Linked DNA regions of Homo sapiens: region 2 is linked to region 1. The links come from fine-mapping of genetic effects on gene expression. A gene starts in region 1. The other region holds a variant in brackets. All regions are shown on one strand. Distances are from middle to middle. Region 1 holds the start of POMT2 (protein O-mannosyltransferase 2). Region 2 overlaps POMT2 (protein O-mannosyltransferase 2).

Region 1 (8,220 bases):
TTGATTCACAGGGGTTCCTGTAAATGCTTAGGCCTGGCTCACCAATGATTAGGCTGAGTTAAAAGCTGATGTTGCCCACCAAGCAGCAGCAGGCACTTAGCCCCAATGATAACTCTGGATGGCTGATGGCAGTAAGGATTGAAGCATTTGGTATGCCACTTGGAAGACTAAATACTGAGAGATGAAAGCTGAGAAGTGTGGAAACACATCATGGCTGCCTGCCAATAGGACAGACTGGATCACTCACGTAGGTGCCCACACTAAGGGCAGGTACTCTCGTAAGACTGACTGGAATCAAACTGCTGATCCAGCCTGCACCACCAAGACTGCTGCCATAGCCACCTGGATTCATGCAACCGGTGTGGAAACATCTACCATCATGGGCTAGGCACAACGTAAGGGACTACATGTTTCTGAGGCAGAAGCCACCACTGCGTGCCAGACTTGTGACTCCTGCCAAAAGTTGGCCTGCTTGTCTTGCAGTAAAGGAAGCCACATTGCAAGGGGCACTGACCACACCTGCTCCTGGGAGATTGACATTAGGACTTTGTTCCCTTCTCTAGGCTCTCATCAGTACCTTGCTACTGCTGATACTTTTTCAGTTTACAGTGCTGATGTTGCTTTTCCAGTCCAATTATCTGACTCTGTGTATACCACTGTGGCCCTTGAAACTAAACTGCCAGGTTTTCTGCTTTCCAAACCATCTACAGTCTGACACTGGCATATCTTTTTGTCGCAATGGCCACCCAACAGTGTCAACAGTCAATAGCCAAGGTATTCGATGGACCTCCCACACTCCCTACCATCCACAGGCATGACATTGTCAAGTACTGAACAGTTCCCTCAAAGATCAACTCAAAAAGATTTTTGATTCTATGTTTTTAACCTCCTCCTGGTCTGCAAACCTTACTGAAGCAGTTTGGTCACCTAAGGCAGCCATTCTCAGAAATGGGTCATCTCCTTTTGCCTACCAACTGGGTAATGATCAGGAAAAAGGGGTGGAGGGTTATATAAACCTATTTTGAAAATGTGAGATTCTCCCCTGACCATTTCTGGCCATGATTCATCTTTCTTCCCCCTTACAGAAAGCCCAGATCAGCTGGGAGGAGGAGGCTATCTATGTAATTCAGACTTAATTCTAGTTCAGTCACTAGATTGTCTTGTTGGAATGGCCTGGTGCCAGAACATAAAGTTAATGATCATTTGGTTGGGTATAGTGCTTTTAAAGTCCCCCTACAGTGGCCCACATGTGTCAAGGTAGAAGACATAATGGGCCTCTGTCAATTTTCTAACAATTGGATATTAGAAGGCCTGCGTATTGGTAGGGGATAAATGGAGAAAAGGTGAAGTTATAGTTACTAGGGTAGGACACACTCATTATGTAGCAATGGAAGGAAAGAAACAATCCTGGCATCTGGGGAAGGAACACCACAGGACCCTGGAGATGTAAAGAGAAGGGAAACAATGTTCTCTTTGTCCCTATCCAGCACCAAAGCCTGGCAAACATTCACATGGTCCATCTAGGTCAAGCAGCAACTGTGGCTGGCAATCTGACCTGTGGCTGAGTTTGTCATCTCACTATGAAAACATAAAAACTTTATCTAGCAGGTCAGTATAAAAAAGAAAATAAAAAAAGAAAACAAAAACTCACATGGACACGGCCAGTCTTGAACTATTCCCACGTGCCTGATGACATCAACACCAACTCCCAAACGCAGACCTCCCTCATAGGTGTGCAAACACACAGATCAGCACCACCTTCTATCAATGCGGCTGATACAAATCACATGCTTCTCCTGAGATCCTAAGGGCCTTACTTAGGTTATGCCTTGTCTAGTGATTGAGGCTGCAACTGTTCAGTGACACTGCCCATGTGGTTTAAACCACTGTAATGGTAATCAAATTTGATGGTGATCCAAATAAAAATCTAACAAAAATCCTGGAGTGGCCTGCACTCCTCCAAGTAATATGTTAGTGTAAGGAAGAATGGGTCACAAAATATCTTTCCATTAATCATGGTAGTTAATTTTTTTTTTTTTTTTTTGAGACAGAGTCTGGCTTTGTCGCCTAGGCTGGAATGCAATGGTGCGATCTTAGCTCACTGCAACCTCTGCTTCCCAGGTTCAAGTGATTCTCCCACCTCAGCCTCCCGAGTAGCTGGGATTACAGGCACCCGCCATCATGCCCGGCTAAGTCTTGTATTTTCAGTTGAGACGGAGTTTCACCATGTTGGCCAGGTTGGTCTCGAACTCCTGACCTCAGGTGATCTGCCCGCCTCGGCCTCCCAAACTGCCGGGATTACAGGTGTGAGCCACTGCGCCCAGCCTGGTAATTACTTTCTTAAAAAAATTTTTACAAGGGTAGTGGGCTATTGTAATTACTGGTAATGACACCAAAGATCAGAGATCAATCTGAACCCCTGTGCACAGGTCACAGTGGTTAATAGACTGGTCTTAGACTGCAGCCCAGATGTCTGAAATAAGATTCCTCGGTGCCCCCAGGACTTATTCACAAGTGGCTGAATCCAGGACCCTGGAGGGCATGGTTGAGGTAAATACTGTAAGCTGGCCTTATTCTGCTGCTTAGAGTCCCATTGACAACAACCTTAATTAAATGCTGTAAGGGACAAACTGAAAAGATGTGAGTAGCCAGGGGAGTTGTATATTCATGTGAAAATCTGCTAGAAGCCAAGACCATAGAATCGAGGAGTGAGAGAGGCTGTCAGATTGCTCGTGCCTCTACACATCATTCTGGGTATACCAAGAATGCAAGGCCCTGACTGCATCTCACCTGGGCCATTTCTCATGGTTGTGTTTGCAGCAAGCAACTTTGAGAGAAGAGGCAGTGTCTCCCTCCAGGACAAAGAGGAGGTCTGCGTACTGCCTTCTATAAAACAGCAGATTTTCCAAGCTTGTCGTTCCTTCACTTGGATGCAACCCACTGCCTGTGCAGTCATCCATTTAAACCCATAGCGTCACCCTGTGGGACTTGGATGGCAAGGGAAACTGCTTCTAACATGCATCCTATTTCCTGTAATAAAGTCCTTTGTCTCTAACCCAGGAGTCTCATCTTCTGCCAGCAGTCACGACACAATAACAAGCTAATTTATTAATTTCTAAATAAAGCAACCCTGACAGTCTGTTTTCTTGCCTGCTTTTTGCTTAAAGAATTCCATTTCTGACACCCAGTATCTGGATAGTACAAGCTAAAACCTTTAAGAAAATAAATCTCTTCTCACAAGAAGAGTTCTGCCTCATAAAATCCTTTGGTCACCATACCTGAACACCCAAACTGTCCTTGCCCTATAGGATAAAGGTACACAGTTAGGTATTTTCTCCTCTGTTGATGCCTGAAAATCCTGCAGACATAGGAACTCAGGCCTTAGAAAATTCTGTACCCAAAAATTTGCAATTCTCTTTGGAAAGTTGAAAGCACCTTTAAAAGCCACAATTTGCAAGCCAGGTGATGCACTGTAGCATAACCTGGAAGACATGAGGGCTGCTTCCTCAGATACTAAGAATCCCACTGCCCCACCACCAGAGCAAAACGATCCCCCTCCCAGAGAATGCACCTCGCCAGAGGCCAACCCACCCGATACCTCAAGTTCCCCTCCACCGTGGCCCTCCTCCTATAGATCCCGCCCCCTCCGTACCCTCGGGCCAATCAGAGGGCGGCGTCCCGTCGCGGTTGCCATGGTGCCCGCCGAGTCCCTCCCATCACTCACCAGATGTGCGGCGGCTCGTCCAAGCGGTGGAAGCGGGTGGCGAAGGACAGCAGCGTCACCAAGGCCAGCAGGGCCCACCAGCCGACCGCCTCGAAGCGCCGTGAGCCCCAAGCAGGCCGTTTGGGGCTTCGCGCCACAGCCTCAGCGGCCACGTCCCGGCCTGCGGCCCTAGCAGCCTGGGGGCCACAGCGGCCCCTCCGGGGACGCAGCTCGGACTCTGCCAGGCCTCCGCCCGTGGCCGGCGGCATCTTCCCCCTCCTCTGGGTCGCCCTCCGGCCCGGAGGCACACTTTGTCTGACCAGCCGCCCCGCCAAGGAGTCACAAGAGGGCAGCTCGGGGTACCCCGGGAAATGCAACGCCCTTCACTGCAGCGGAGCGCGGGGCCCCGGGCTCGGGGCGGGGCGGGCAGCGTGGTCGCGGCCCGGGCCGCTAGGAGGCGGCAGGAGGCGCAGAGCATGTCGGGACCGGGAGGGCCGGCCGGCCCGGGGCGGGGGGGACTGGGCAGGAGGGGTCGGGCTCAGGGAACTGCAACTCCCAGCAGCCCCCAGGTACGGGGCGTGGCGGGAGAGCTGGGCGAGCCAGAGGCGACCGGAAGGATCTTTCTAGTCCAGCCCCTCGCTTTACCCGGACGAAAGACACGGGCCTGATTCGTCGAGTCTCACTGAGCCTTAGTCGTCGGCAGGTCCCAGGCGCGAAGTTTCTCGGCCTGGAGGAGGGGGTCGCGCGAAGTGCCAGATGCAGGCGGGGAAGGTCTGTGACGCGCACCCGGGTGGAGGGAAGCTGGTTAGACACCTGGAGACCCTGGGGGGCGGGGTCAGAAGTGAGCTGCACCGCCCGCCCAGGCCGACAACGACTCCCGGCATGCAGTGCTTTGCGCCGGGCACGCTCTGCGCCTGCGTGCTGCGCGCTGCCCGCTGGGGCTCGAAGTTCCGGGAGGGTTGGGCCAGAGGAGGCGGTCCTGGTAGGGAGTGCGTAGCAGGGTGGAGTCGCTGTCCGGTCGCGCTTCACTTCTGCTCCGCCCTCCCTGCTCCCCATAACAGACCCCTCCCTCCACTAAGGCTTCCAAACGTCGCCCCAAGCCTCCCAATTTCTCGCAGCCCTTCATGCTCTTCTCTTGGCCCTAGCAGGAGGTGACCTTCCAGTAATGTTTGTATTTTAAGAGTCCCCGGGCCGGGCGCGGTGGCTCACGCCTGTAATCCCAGCACTTTGGGAGGCCGAGGCGGGCGGATCACAAGGTCAGGAGATAGAGACCATCCTGGCTAACACGATGAAACCCTGTCTCTATTAAAATACAAAAAAATTAGCCAGGCGTGGTAGCGGGCGCCTGTAGTCCCAGCTACTCGGGAGGCTGAGGCAGGAGAATAGCGTGAACCCAGGAGGCGGAGCTTGCAGTGAGCCGAGATCGCGCCACTGCACTCCAGCCTGGGCGAAAGAGCGGGACTCCGGCTCAAAAAAAAAAAAAAAAGGCCCCGAGCGAGGAGAGGCAGTCATGACAATCACCTGGGGAGCTTCACGGCTTTCACATGTTCTTCCCGGGGCCTGCTCCAGAGCCACTCTGTTCATCTCTGGTGGAACGGGCTCGAGAATCTGCATGTTTTTATAAGCGGTCTAGATGGTTCTTAACGTGCCATGAAGTTTGAGAACCACTTTTGTGGCACTAAGGAAGGTGGCACGTTAGATGGGACTTTGCGTCACGTTAATAATGTATAGTCCTCCCTCTTCCAAATGGGATTTTAGGAGTCTTTTTCTCAAATCATGTGTAAGACATGGTTTAAAAATAAAATCTGCTAAAGTAATCAGAATGCATATTTGAATTGGAAACACAGGTCTTCTAGGAGTGCTGATGAGATGGATACTTGGGCTTAAAGTTTAGTTCTACAAGTGCAGAAAGGAACGGGGCATGGTTTACATAGTTATCACTGGTAAGAGAAGGCAGAAATTGCCTAAGAGATTTCAGGTTTCCTGCTTGTGGGTCGTGACGGAGGGCAGCAGCATTTACCATGCTTCTGGTCACTCGTAGTACAGATCCAAAGGTGTAATCCAAAGGCATTTAGCCATTAGGTAAGGCATTTCTTCAGGGATTCTAAGCTAATTAATGTCTGCCACACTCTAGTGGTCACCAGCAGTCCCTGTCCCTTGGCACCAGGAGTCCCTGTAGCCTGGCTAGGTAAGGAAAGGGAGTTGCATCTCCAAATAAGGAAGATCCAGTTGTGGCCACCCAATTCCTCCTCTTCGAAAGACACTTTCTGCCCATCACCTGCTTTCTGTGCCAGGACCATCTTTACTTTCTCCACAAAAGGTACCTTCAGGACAGGCTGGGACTGCTGGGCTTGGGAACCATCTTGGAAGGGCCTAGGTTCCCACTTACACCCTTGCCATCTAGCAGACTGAGTTGGTAGTACAGGGATGGCAATAGCAAGTTCAGAGAGCAGCTTAATATGCTAGGGGTGGCAGAGGGGAGAGGGAGCTTTGGTGAAATGTCTATAGTCAGAGGGGTAGTAAACAGGGCATCTGAGAAGTTCTTTCAAGTTCTCCCCTATCCATAGGGATACACATGTTTTGGTGGGAAGATTCATGAGTGCTAATCACTGGCGAGTCTTTCCTGGGTTCCACTTTGAAATGCTGGCTCCCGAAGAAGTACCAGAGAAATTAACTTTGAGCCCCTTAAACCTTGGAGTAGAGATCGCACACCCAGCTGCCCCCAAGGGCCCAAAGGTAACAAAAATGAGAAAAGTGGGCCAGATATGGGCCATGGCAGACCTGAGAGCGCATACGCTGGTTGATGGGGGCCATTAGTCTGTTCCCATCAATTGCTGCTATTTAGGAACCCAAATCTGTCTCCAGATTTTTTTAAAGAAAAAAAACAAACAGGTGTTGTATATAAAATATCATGATTTTTATTTTTATTTTATTTTATTATTTATTTATTTTGAGATGGAGTCTTGCTCTGTCCCCCAGGCTGGAGGGCAGTGACACGATCTTGGCTCACTGTATCCTCCGCCTCCTGGGTTCAAGCAATTCTCATACCTCAGCCTCCCAAGTAGGTGTGATTACAGATGCACACCACCACACCTGGCTAATTTTTGTTTAGCCATGTTGTTTCGCCATGTTGGCCAGGCTGGTCTCGAACTCCTGACCTCAGGTGATCTGCTGGCCTCAGCCTCCCAAAGTGCTGGGATTACAGGCATGACCCACCATACTAGAATGAAATGTCCTGATTTTTAAACATTGGCAACTACTTGAAACATTTTAAACTACTGTGTTGAGCAAACAGAAATTCTGAGGGCCAGATAGGGCCCCAGTGAGCTGCCAGCTTTTGACCTCACCTTTGGGGTGAGTGAGCATATCTGCCAGCTGTTTTTATGGGGACAGCCGAGAGCCCGGAGGACTGCTGGGAGGTGGGGTTGAAGGAGATATGTACCAAAGCGTCAAAAAATTAGAATTCCTTGTCTTGCTGCATTGCTAGAGGATGCCCTGCCATCATTTTAGGGCAACCTTTGTTTTACAAATGAGGGAGCCGAAGATTTAAAAAGGCAGAGGTTTGTCCAAGGTCATGCAGAGCTGGTTCCTGCACCAGGTCCAGACTCCAGATGCCAGCTCCCAGCCCGCTCCACCACTCAAAATACTGCATCAAAACCAGGCCACGCTCTGTTGGGGGGACACCAAACCTGGCCCCAGCAGGAGCGTAAGAAACTTCCTGCGAGTTGGAAAAAAATGCCTTTTTTTTTTTTTTTTTTTTGAGACGCAGTCTCGCTCTGGAGTGCAGTGGTGCGATCTCGGCCCACTGTGACCTCCACCTCTCAGGTTCAAGCTATTCTCTTACCTCAACCTCCTGAGTAGCTGAGATTACAGGCACCCACTACCACACCTGGCTGATTTTTTTTTGTATTTTCAGTAGAGACAGGGTTTCACCATGTTGGCCAGGCTGGTCTCAAACTCCTCACCTCAAATGATCCACCCACCTTGGCTCCCGAAGTGCTGGGATTACAGGCGTGAGCCACTGTGCCTGGCCAGAAATGCCCTTTCTGACCAGAGTCAAAGTTCCCCCAATGCCTGGGTAGCCCAGCTTCCCCATTGGCTCCTGAAATCCACCCCTTTAGGTTTCCTTTCCCTGCTCAGAAGCTGTGCCAGAGGGGACATTTCCTGGGAGGCTGAGGGTCACCACGATACCATGACAGAGTCTGGCAAGGTATGGAAGGCACTCTCAGGCTAGCTGCCCCTTTGGGGGCCTCTTGGACCTCAGGAGCTCAAACCAGCATAATTTTGGAGCCAAGGGACCTCATGAGCCTCTCAGAGAGCTTGGAGTCTGCCCTGATTTGCACAGATGCAGGCCTGAGAGAGGAGGCCTGGCAGGACAGGAAGAAATGGTTGACTCCTCCCAAGCTGGAGCCCACCCAGCATGGGTTAACACGCGCCTTCATCCTCTCTCTCCTCAGCCCATCCTCTATTCCTATTTCCGAAGCTCCTGCTCATGGAGAGTTCGAATTGGTAAGAGA
Region 2 (8,400 bases), 26 kb before region 1:
CTGCCCATTTCTCTACAAAGGCCTAGGAGCAGCTGAGCTGGGATAGGCTAAGCCAGGTGGGATTTGCTGAGGAGTCACAGAGATACCTGTGGCACAGGACTGTCAGCAGAGATGACAGGCTCGGAAGGTGAGTGGAAGATGCCCTCTGTTCTCTTAGCTGCAGCAGAGGCACAGCCTGCAGGTAGCTAGCTGTCTGACCAAAGAAAGGAAGATCTGGCTCTAGCTCTTGCTCTGTCATAAAGCCCTGAGAGCCTGATAGGTGTGCTTCAGAGCGCCTTCACCCAGGCCAGTTAGAAGCAGATCAGCAGGCATCGAGTCACATCTCAGGAATTAGCCTAGACAAATTCCAGTCACAGGACTAGTAGCCCCTCAGATCAACTGACTGACTCAGGCCAGGGCTGAGCAGTGGGCAGGATTCTATCTTATCAAGACGACTTAAGCTGCACCACATGCTAGAGTGTGCAATGTTTGGTGTGCTCTATGTAAGAAATGAGAGCAGCAGCCAGGTGCCCTCAGCTGGGGCCACTCACCAGCCCCTAGTGGCATGCTCAAGTAACCTCTACTTAGATTAAATCTGGGCTCCGCTATCTGTCTTCAAAATGACAGCTCTAAGAGCAAGTTCTTACCTGTTTTGCTCAATGCTTATCCCCTATGCCAACAACAGTGCTTGGAACACAGTAGGTGCTTAATAAATAATAATTGAAAGGATAATTGAGATAAGTAAAGGTGTCAAAGATGCTCAGCAAAGCCCATCTCAGGATCATTCTTTTGCAGGCATGAGAAATCTTAAGGAGGGCTCAGAGGGAGTAACAGCACAAGAAGCATCAGTCTCTGACCACATTACCTGAGTTTGTGTTATGTTTCTTGATAATCCACAGGTTGTTGTAGTCCTTGTGCAAATAGGTGGTGACCTGGGTGGGGGGTGGGGGCGGAGGGAAGAGGAAGCAGGAGGGAGAATACCATCACTATCAGCACAGCTGGCCAAGGACAATCAACCTCAAACCAATGTTGCTTAAGCCAATTTCAGAATCCCCAGCCACCAACCTGAGGGGCCATGTTTCCCAATGGGGCTCATATGTAGCACTGGTGAGTGAGATTCTCTCCTTCCTTCTGCATTTAGAAGCTTTGTCCCACAAGAGCCTTTTTGTTTCTTTGTATCTTTCTGCATCTTGTCCTAAAAGTTCCATCCAGCCTTCTAGAGGGAGGAACCATGAGGCCTTATATAACTGACTCCAACACAAAAACAGAATGAGGATTTAAGTGCATTTTCAAAGTAATTAAGGCCGGGTGTGGTGGCTCATGCCTGTAATCCCAGCACTTTGGGAAGCCAGAGTGGGCGGATCACCTGAGGTCAGGAGTTTGAGATCAGCCTGGCCAACACGGTGAAACCCCGTCTTTACTAAAAATACAAAAATTAGCCGGGCATGGTACGCGCCTGTAATCCCAACTACTCAGGAGGCTAAGGCAGGAGAATCGCTTGAACCTAGGAGGCAGAGGTTGCAGTGAGCTGAGATCGCGCCACTGCACTACAGCCTGGGCAACAGAGCAAGACTCTATCTTGGGAAAAAAAAAAGTAATTAAGATCATGCCTCAAACTTTCTAAATGAAAAATTCATGCTATTATATTTTCTATAATGTGGCCAAATGAAACGAAAAAGCTCCACAGATATCCTGTCCTAGAATTTAACTCACGTTTTATACAAAAAATCTGGAAACAGTATGACTGTCTAGTAATAGAAAAATAGTTAACATGATAGTATGTCCTGGGATAGAATATTATACAGCCATAAAAAATGTTTCAGAGCATTTTTTTAGCAACATGGGAAAAGGCTCATGAAATGCTGATGCTGAAAATGGCTACCATTTATTACCAGGCACTGTTCTAAGCATTGGGCAAGTCTTATCTCATTTAACCATTATTACAGCTCTATGCCATAGGTACTATGGTTATCCCCACATTACTTACAAGGAAACTGAAGTTAAGTAATTTGCTCAAGGTCACACAGCTTATGCGTTGGGGAGACAGAATTCAAACCAGGGCCGCAAAATAAATGCTCCCAGGATAGAGACTATATACGTCCAATTATGCCAATTATGTAGACAAGTAGAGAACTCTCACAAATGAGTTTTTATAACCCCAATTGGATAAAATATGACCAATTTATAGTCATATGCCACATAAAGACATTTTGGTCAACAACAAACTGCATATATAATGGTTGCCCCATAAGATTATAATACCATATTTTTACTATACCATTTCCATGTTTAGATATGTTTAAGTTAATACAAATACTTACCATTGTGTTCCACTGTGTTCCAACTGCCTGCAGTATTCAGTACAGTAACATGCTATACAGGTTTGTAGTCTAGGAGCAATCAGCTATACCATGTAGCTTAGGTGTGTGGTAGGCTGGACCACCTAGGTTTGTGTAAGTACATACTATGATGTTCACCCAACGATCAAATCACCTAATGACCTGTTTCTCAGAAGGTATCCCCCCGATGCATGACTGTACTTACAAAGAGATTTAGAATTAGCATTTAGGGGAAAAATTATTTTGCTTGCATTATGGCTGCTTCTTTTGAGTGGTATTTGCTTTGTTCCTCAGGAAAAAAAAATTAGGGATAATGTTATTAAGAATATACAAGAAGCTAAAAAGTTTTGGTGCTCATAAAGAAATTAAAATGAAGTCTACATTCCTGAGAAAAAGCTCGATATCGTCCATCCAGCCTGGATTTGCTCAAGGAAGTTAAGGTTCTATGATGCTCGTGTGTGTACTCTGTGTAGATGTGTGGTAGGAGAGCAGTCTTTGTGTGTCTGTTTTACAAGAGCAATTATGATTAAAATTCCTACAAGAAAAATTATTTATTTATCATGAGTACAGTCCATGGCCCCTTTTCCCACTGAAATGTTTGTTTTGACAATGGAGATTTTTATACCATGAGATTTCCTAAGAACACAAGTATCCAATTATAGCAGAATGTTGTACATTAAAACATTCAGATAAACACTTAATCTTCTGGGATTACATGTAGCTTTTGTTTTCTTTTTTATACTTTTCTACATTTTCCAATTTTATAAATGCTATGCTTTAAAAACATTCTAAAATAGAGACCTAGACATGTTAACAAGACATTAAACTGCATGGCAGGAAGGGCCACTGGAGATTATTTAGTCCAATCCCCTCAATTTACAGATGAGGAAACAGGATGAAAGGCTAAAAGATCTGGTCAATGACAAAGCCAGACACTTTCGTCCCTTGGCGCAATGCACTTTCCCTATACCACCATCACGTTTCACACCTCCACACATGGGCTCTACGTACATAACACTAGCTTAACAGAGCCTTTCAGAGTTTGGCCTTTCTCTCCCTTTGCACAGTGTAGATGTTCTGGTCACCAGGTCTGTAACTGTAGTGTCTTCTACATGACACCTGCAGCAATTTATCAACACATGAGAACACAGAACATCTAGTTTTCTCTGCCCTGGGTGTACATGACTTAGAATAATTTGGACAGCTTAAAACCAAACCAAAAATGCATAATGCATGGGCCTCATCCTAGATCAATTAAATCATAATCTCTGCAGTGGAGTCCAGGCATCAGAATTTTTAAAAATCTCTCCGTTGATTCTAAGTGCAGCCAGGGCTGAAAACCACTGGGCCAGACATGAATGGAGAATTAAGGATAAGAAACTGATACTAAAATCCAATACCCTGTAATATGGTTTGGCTTTATGTCCCCACCCAATTCTCATCTTGTGGCTCCTCTAATTCCCACGTGTTGTGGGAGGGACCCGGTGGGAGATGATTGAGTCACGAGTGAATGGGTCTCACAAGATCTGATGGTTTTATTTTTTTATTTTTTGAGATGGAGTCTCACTCTTTTGCCTGGGCTGGAGTACAGTGGCGCAATCTCAGTTCACTGCAACCTCCACCTCCCCGGTTCAAGTGATTCTCCTGCCTCAGTCTCCTGAGTGGCTGGGATTACTGGCACGTGCCATCAAGCCCGAGTAATTTTTTTGTATTTTTAGTAGAGATGGGGTTTCACCATGTTGGCCAGGCTGGTCTCAAACTCCTGACCTAAAGTGATCCGCCCACCTCGGCATAAGCCACCGCACCTGGCCAGAGATCTGATGGTTTTTAAAACCATTTTTAAAATGGGATTTTCTCTGCACAAGCTCTCTCTTTGCCTGCCGCCATCCACATAAAATGTGACTTGCTCCTCCTTGCCTTCCACCGGGGTTGTGAGGCCTCCCCAGCCATGTGGAACTTTAAGTCCAATTAAATCTCTTTCTTTTGTAAATTGCCCAGTCTCAGGTATGTCTTTATCAGCAGCATGAAATTGCACTAATACATACTGAGTCACTTTCTAGCAACTAAAAGGGAAATAAAAATAAAGCATTTGGAGAGAGACAACTTTTTGCAAAGAACAAATCTTTGCAAAGTAAAGATTCCATGCTTTTTGCCTCTGTTCACTGTCCTTTGTCATAATTATTGCCTCCAAACTGGTTCCTTGTGAGCTATCACATTTCCACTAAAGTTACCTTTCTAAACTAGAGATCTAATCATAATCATAATAATTTTGATTGCCTCCCTAATGTCTATGGAGCAAAGTCAAATCTACTATAACACAGGCCTCTCCCCAATATGGCCCCACCAACCTCTTCAGCATCCTGCTTCTCCCTCTCAGGCACCATCCACTGCAGCCACACAAACACTCCTTAACATGGACACAGCATCGTTCACTCATTCAGATGATACTCACATGGCTAATCTTTCATAAGCACTTCACATTGTTATCTCATTTAATCCTCACAACTGCCCTTTGATGGAGAGAGGTACTACTCATTTTCCCCAACTTAAAGAGGAGGATACAGGCTGGGCGCGGTGGCTCATGCCTGTAATCCCAGCACTTTGGGAGGCCGAGGCAGGTGGATCATGAGGTCAGGAGATCGAGACTATCCTGGCTAACACGGTGAAACCCTGTCTCTACTAAAAATACGAAAAATTAGCCAGGCGTGGTGGCGGGTGCCTGTAGTCCCAGCTACTCGGGAGGCTGAGGCAGGAGAATGGCGTGAACCCGGGAGGCGGAGTTTGCAGTAAG[C/T]TGAGATCACGCCACTGCACTCCAGCCTGGGTGACAGAGCAAGACTCCATCTCAAAAAAAAAAAAAAAAAAAAGAAGAGGATACTGAAGCACAAGAAGATGAACTTGTCCAAAGTGACACTCTATATGAAAGCAGGCTTCACACCCCGATCATCTAGTCTGGTTCCCAGGTCTGTGTTCATAAATACCACACTTTATTCATCACCCATCCCATAGCAGGCACCGTGCTAGGCAATTGAGCCTTCCAGGAGCTAGCAATCAAGTACCAAAGAGACGGCGGGAAGTAAGCATGCACAGTTCAATATGAGAAGGTTTACCACGTAGGCATGTGGAAGGTGCCACCAAGCCTCTCATCAGAGGGGCACCCCACCCAGCACCATGGAGAGGTGGGACATGGTTGTCACTAAAGAACACCTATGCTGATGCCTAGAGAAGCTGGGGTTAGCCAGAGAAAACAGAAGGGTGCAGGGCTAGGAAGAATGTTTCAAGCAGGGCGAACAGGATGAGCAAAGGATAGGAGGCAAGAGAGTGAACTGTCATGGCGAACAGCATTGCTGCCGTACAAGTGCACAAAAGGCTCACTGACCTGCTGCTGACGGGCACCAATGCCCTCGGGGTAGAGGTGCCTGTGGGAGTGCAGATAGCCGATGGCCATCCGGAGGTTCTTCACAGTGATCACAGAGCCGTAGGCCAGGTCTGGGAGGAAGGGAGACAGCAGAGGGGTGAGCTGGCACAGTGCCAGAGGCTGTCCGTGCCTGCGAGGAGCCTCGGAAGCCACAGGGCTCACTAACCCTCTGCGAGACTCCCCTGGGCCCTGGACTGAAGCCCAGCTACCTTCTCACTCCCATGGAGCCGACTCAAGACAGAGTTCACCACAGGGCCCACTTACTCCCCCGCCTCCTGAGGGCTTCAGAAGAAGCTTGTGTTAACACTGTCATTATCAAAGCACTACGTGTAACAGCAAAAGACGAAAAACAACTTGTCCTTCTCAAGGTCTCCACATGGATTCAATGGAATAAAGAAGGAAGTATCTTCTGTCTTCGCCTGGAATGTTCTCCAAGATACAGCATTTTGACAAACCATTTTTTTCACTCTATATCCTTTCGTGCCTTTTGAATCTAGTACCATATGAAATAACTGTTCAATGGTGTTTTGTTTTACTCTGAATTAAAAAACAAAAAACACAGAAAACCACTTCTCAAGAGCATCCCCTGCTCCTATAGGCCCTGAGTTATTGAGAAACCTTTTTTCCTTAATACTGTCCTTCTTCCAATCCGCTGGAATGACCTGCTCCTGTTTTTCTTTGTTCATTCAGTGGACCAGAAGAATTACACACTGGATCCAAAGGTGGAGGAGGCCTGCCTGTGGCCCTGGAAGAGCCCTGTCTACAAGGAAGATGGCTTCACACACTGACAAGTATAGGACAGTGGGCAAGTGCCCCACAAAGGCGTGACAATGTGTGACATGGTGGGAATGGTGGGAACTCGGAACAGGCCAAATTCTCTCCCAAGGATTAAAGAGAGGACGACTTGATCGAAGAGGTGACAGCTGAACTAGGCCTTTAAATAATGAGCAGGAATTTGCTAAACTCCACAGCTGTGTTCTTCTGAGTTCTCAGGCAGGCCAACCTCGGCAGCCCTGCACATGGCTGACCACCTTTATTTCTTGAAATGCTCTCTGTTCCCACTTCTCGACCGCACACTCTCTCAAGGGCTGCTCCTCCGCAGTCTCCTCTCCTAATTCCTCCTCCTCTTGCATTCCCCAGTGATCTGACCTCAGCTCTATTCTTTTCCTCTTTCTACAGTTTCCTTACAAATCACAGCTACTGCCACAGCATCAATTACCGTTTTACTTGTCTGATTCCTCCTTTGAAAGCATCAGCCCCAAATCCCACTGGCCCCATGGCAACAATTTCCCCAAGCAGCTCACTATCAACCCCTCTCGCGTGGAATTCAGTATCTGCCCTTCCAACCCAACTTCTTCTCCTGCTTCCCTATTTCTCATTCTTCCCAGTCTGGGAGAGTCCGCTGTATTTTAGGCACTGTGCAAAGTCCTGGAAAGACTAAAATGAGTAAGATGCAGTCTCTGCCTCCAGGAAGCAATCACCTGCACTCAAGTCCTTAGTGACATCTTTCTTCCTCTCTTGCTGTGTCCAGATCTCCCTTGTATATGCCCATTTGCCTTACCCTGTGGCTGCCCCACCATACCCAGCTCAGGTTCCTGCAATAGCTTCCCAGAGGGTTTCTCTTGCCTACAATCCTGTCCCCTCCCCAGCCAGCCTCGACTCTCCCACCCATGTCATCTCCCTATAGCACAGCCTTCCTGGCCTCCTGGCTGCTCAAAGACCTCCACTAGGTCTCCACGGCCTGTTTTAGGAAGTCAAATACCTCATCCAGACACCTCAAACCCTCATAGTCTGGGCCCAACCTAACTTTTCACATTTATCTTCCAGTAGTTTTCTGCATATACCTGTGCCTCAAGTTTTACTCTGTCCTCAGCTTTGATCATGTCATCCCTCCTGCCTGAGATGCCCTCTCCTCTGTTGAAAGCCACACATTCTTCCAGGGCCTGACTCCAAGGCAACCCACATCACGAACCTCTGATGCCCTTAACCGCCCAGCAGCCATGCTCCTTCACGCCTGTCAATCCCCAGAGCTGTGCTCCCTCTTTACGTACTTAACGCTTCCAGCCACACCGTGTGGAGCTCCTCTACACCAGGCTCCATCTCTGGAGGGTGAGCACGCGCTCCACTACCATCTGTCATAGATGAACGAATGCAACACTCAGAAAGCGGTGCGGGAAACCAAAAACTGGCTCTGAAGGGCCTGGTGCTGTCACCATATTCTCTCTGAGTGACCTTCCCACAGAGCTGGCTTGGAGAGCCACCAAGGAGAAGTCATTCTTTAGGGTCAGAGAGCTTGCTGCTCAGGATGTCTTCCTCTCCTCTGTCCTGATTCACTCTCGAGTATTTTCACCAGATCTATCTGGGTCTTTCTCCCACCGTGCCATCACAGGCTAAAATAACCCAAAGCCATCATATTTGTCTTTTCCAATTCAACTCCCAGGACACCCCTCTGCCTTCTACCTTTGTAATGGCCCAGAGACACTCACGTTCAGGGATGGAAGCATTGTGCAGGTTGTTCCCTGAAAGCCGGGCCTGGAAGGCAGAACTGAAGAAACCGTCACCAGGGCCACTGTGGGGAGAGGAAGAGCAGAAGAGAGTCAAGTTAAAGGAGTGAAAGTGTGATTTCCCAGGAGCGCTGGGAAGAGCTCTGCTCAGATAGTTTAAGGA

What was found. PIP is the estimated chance that this variant, and not a neighbour inherited with it, causes the effect.
Region 2: its variant is fine-mapped to the expression of POMT2 in lung (GTEx, PIP above 0.99).

What each region holds. Positions count from the first base shown.
Region 1 is chr14:77,316,710-77,324,929 of GRCh38, forward strand. POMT2 (protein O-mannosyltransferase 2) reads right to left here and starts at 4,174. Exons shown (of 21, transcript NM_013382.7): 1 at 3,725-4,174. The coding sequence starts at 3,972. It overlaps GSTZ1 (glutathione S-transferase zeta 1), which reads left to right and starts at 4,327. Exons shown (of 9, transcript NM_145870.3): 1 at 4,327-4,474; 2 at 8,161-8,212. The coding sequence starts at 4,460. RefSeq lists silencers at 3,661-3,710, 3,941-4,320 and enhancers at 4,401-4,670, 4,548-5,409, 4,941-4,990.
Region 2 is chr14:77,290,470-77,298,869 of GRCh38, forward strand. POMT2 (protein O-mannosyltransferase 2) reads right to left here. Exons shown (of 21, transcript NM_013382.7): 8 at 8,220-8,302; 9 at 5,695-5,804; 10 at 845-911. Among named protein-coding and RNA genes, the nearest start is that of NGB, 23 kb to the left of the region's middle. The variant C/T (reference allele first, on the strand shown) is at 5,110.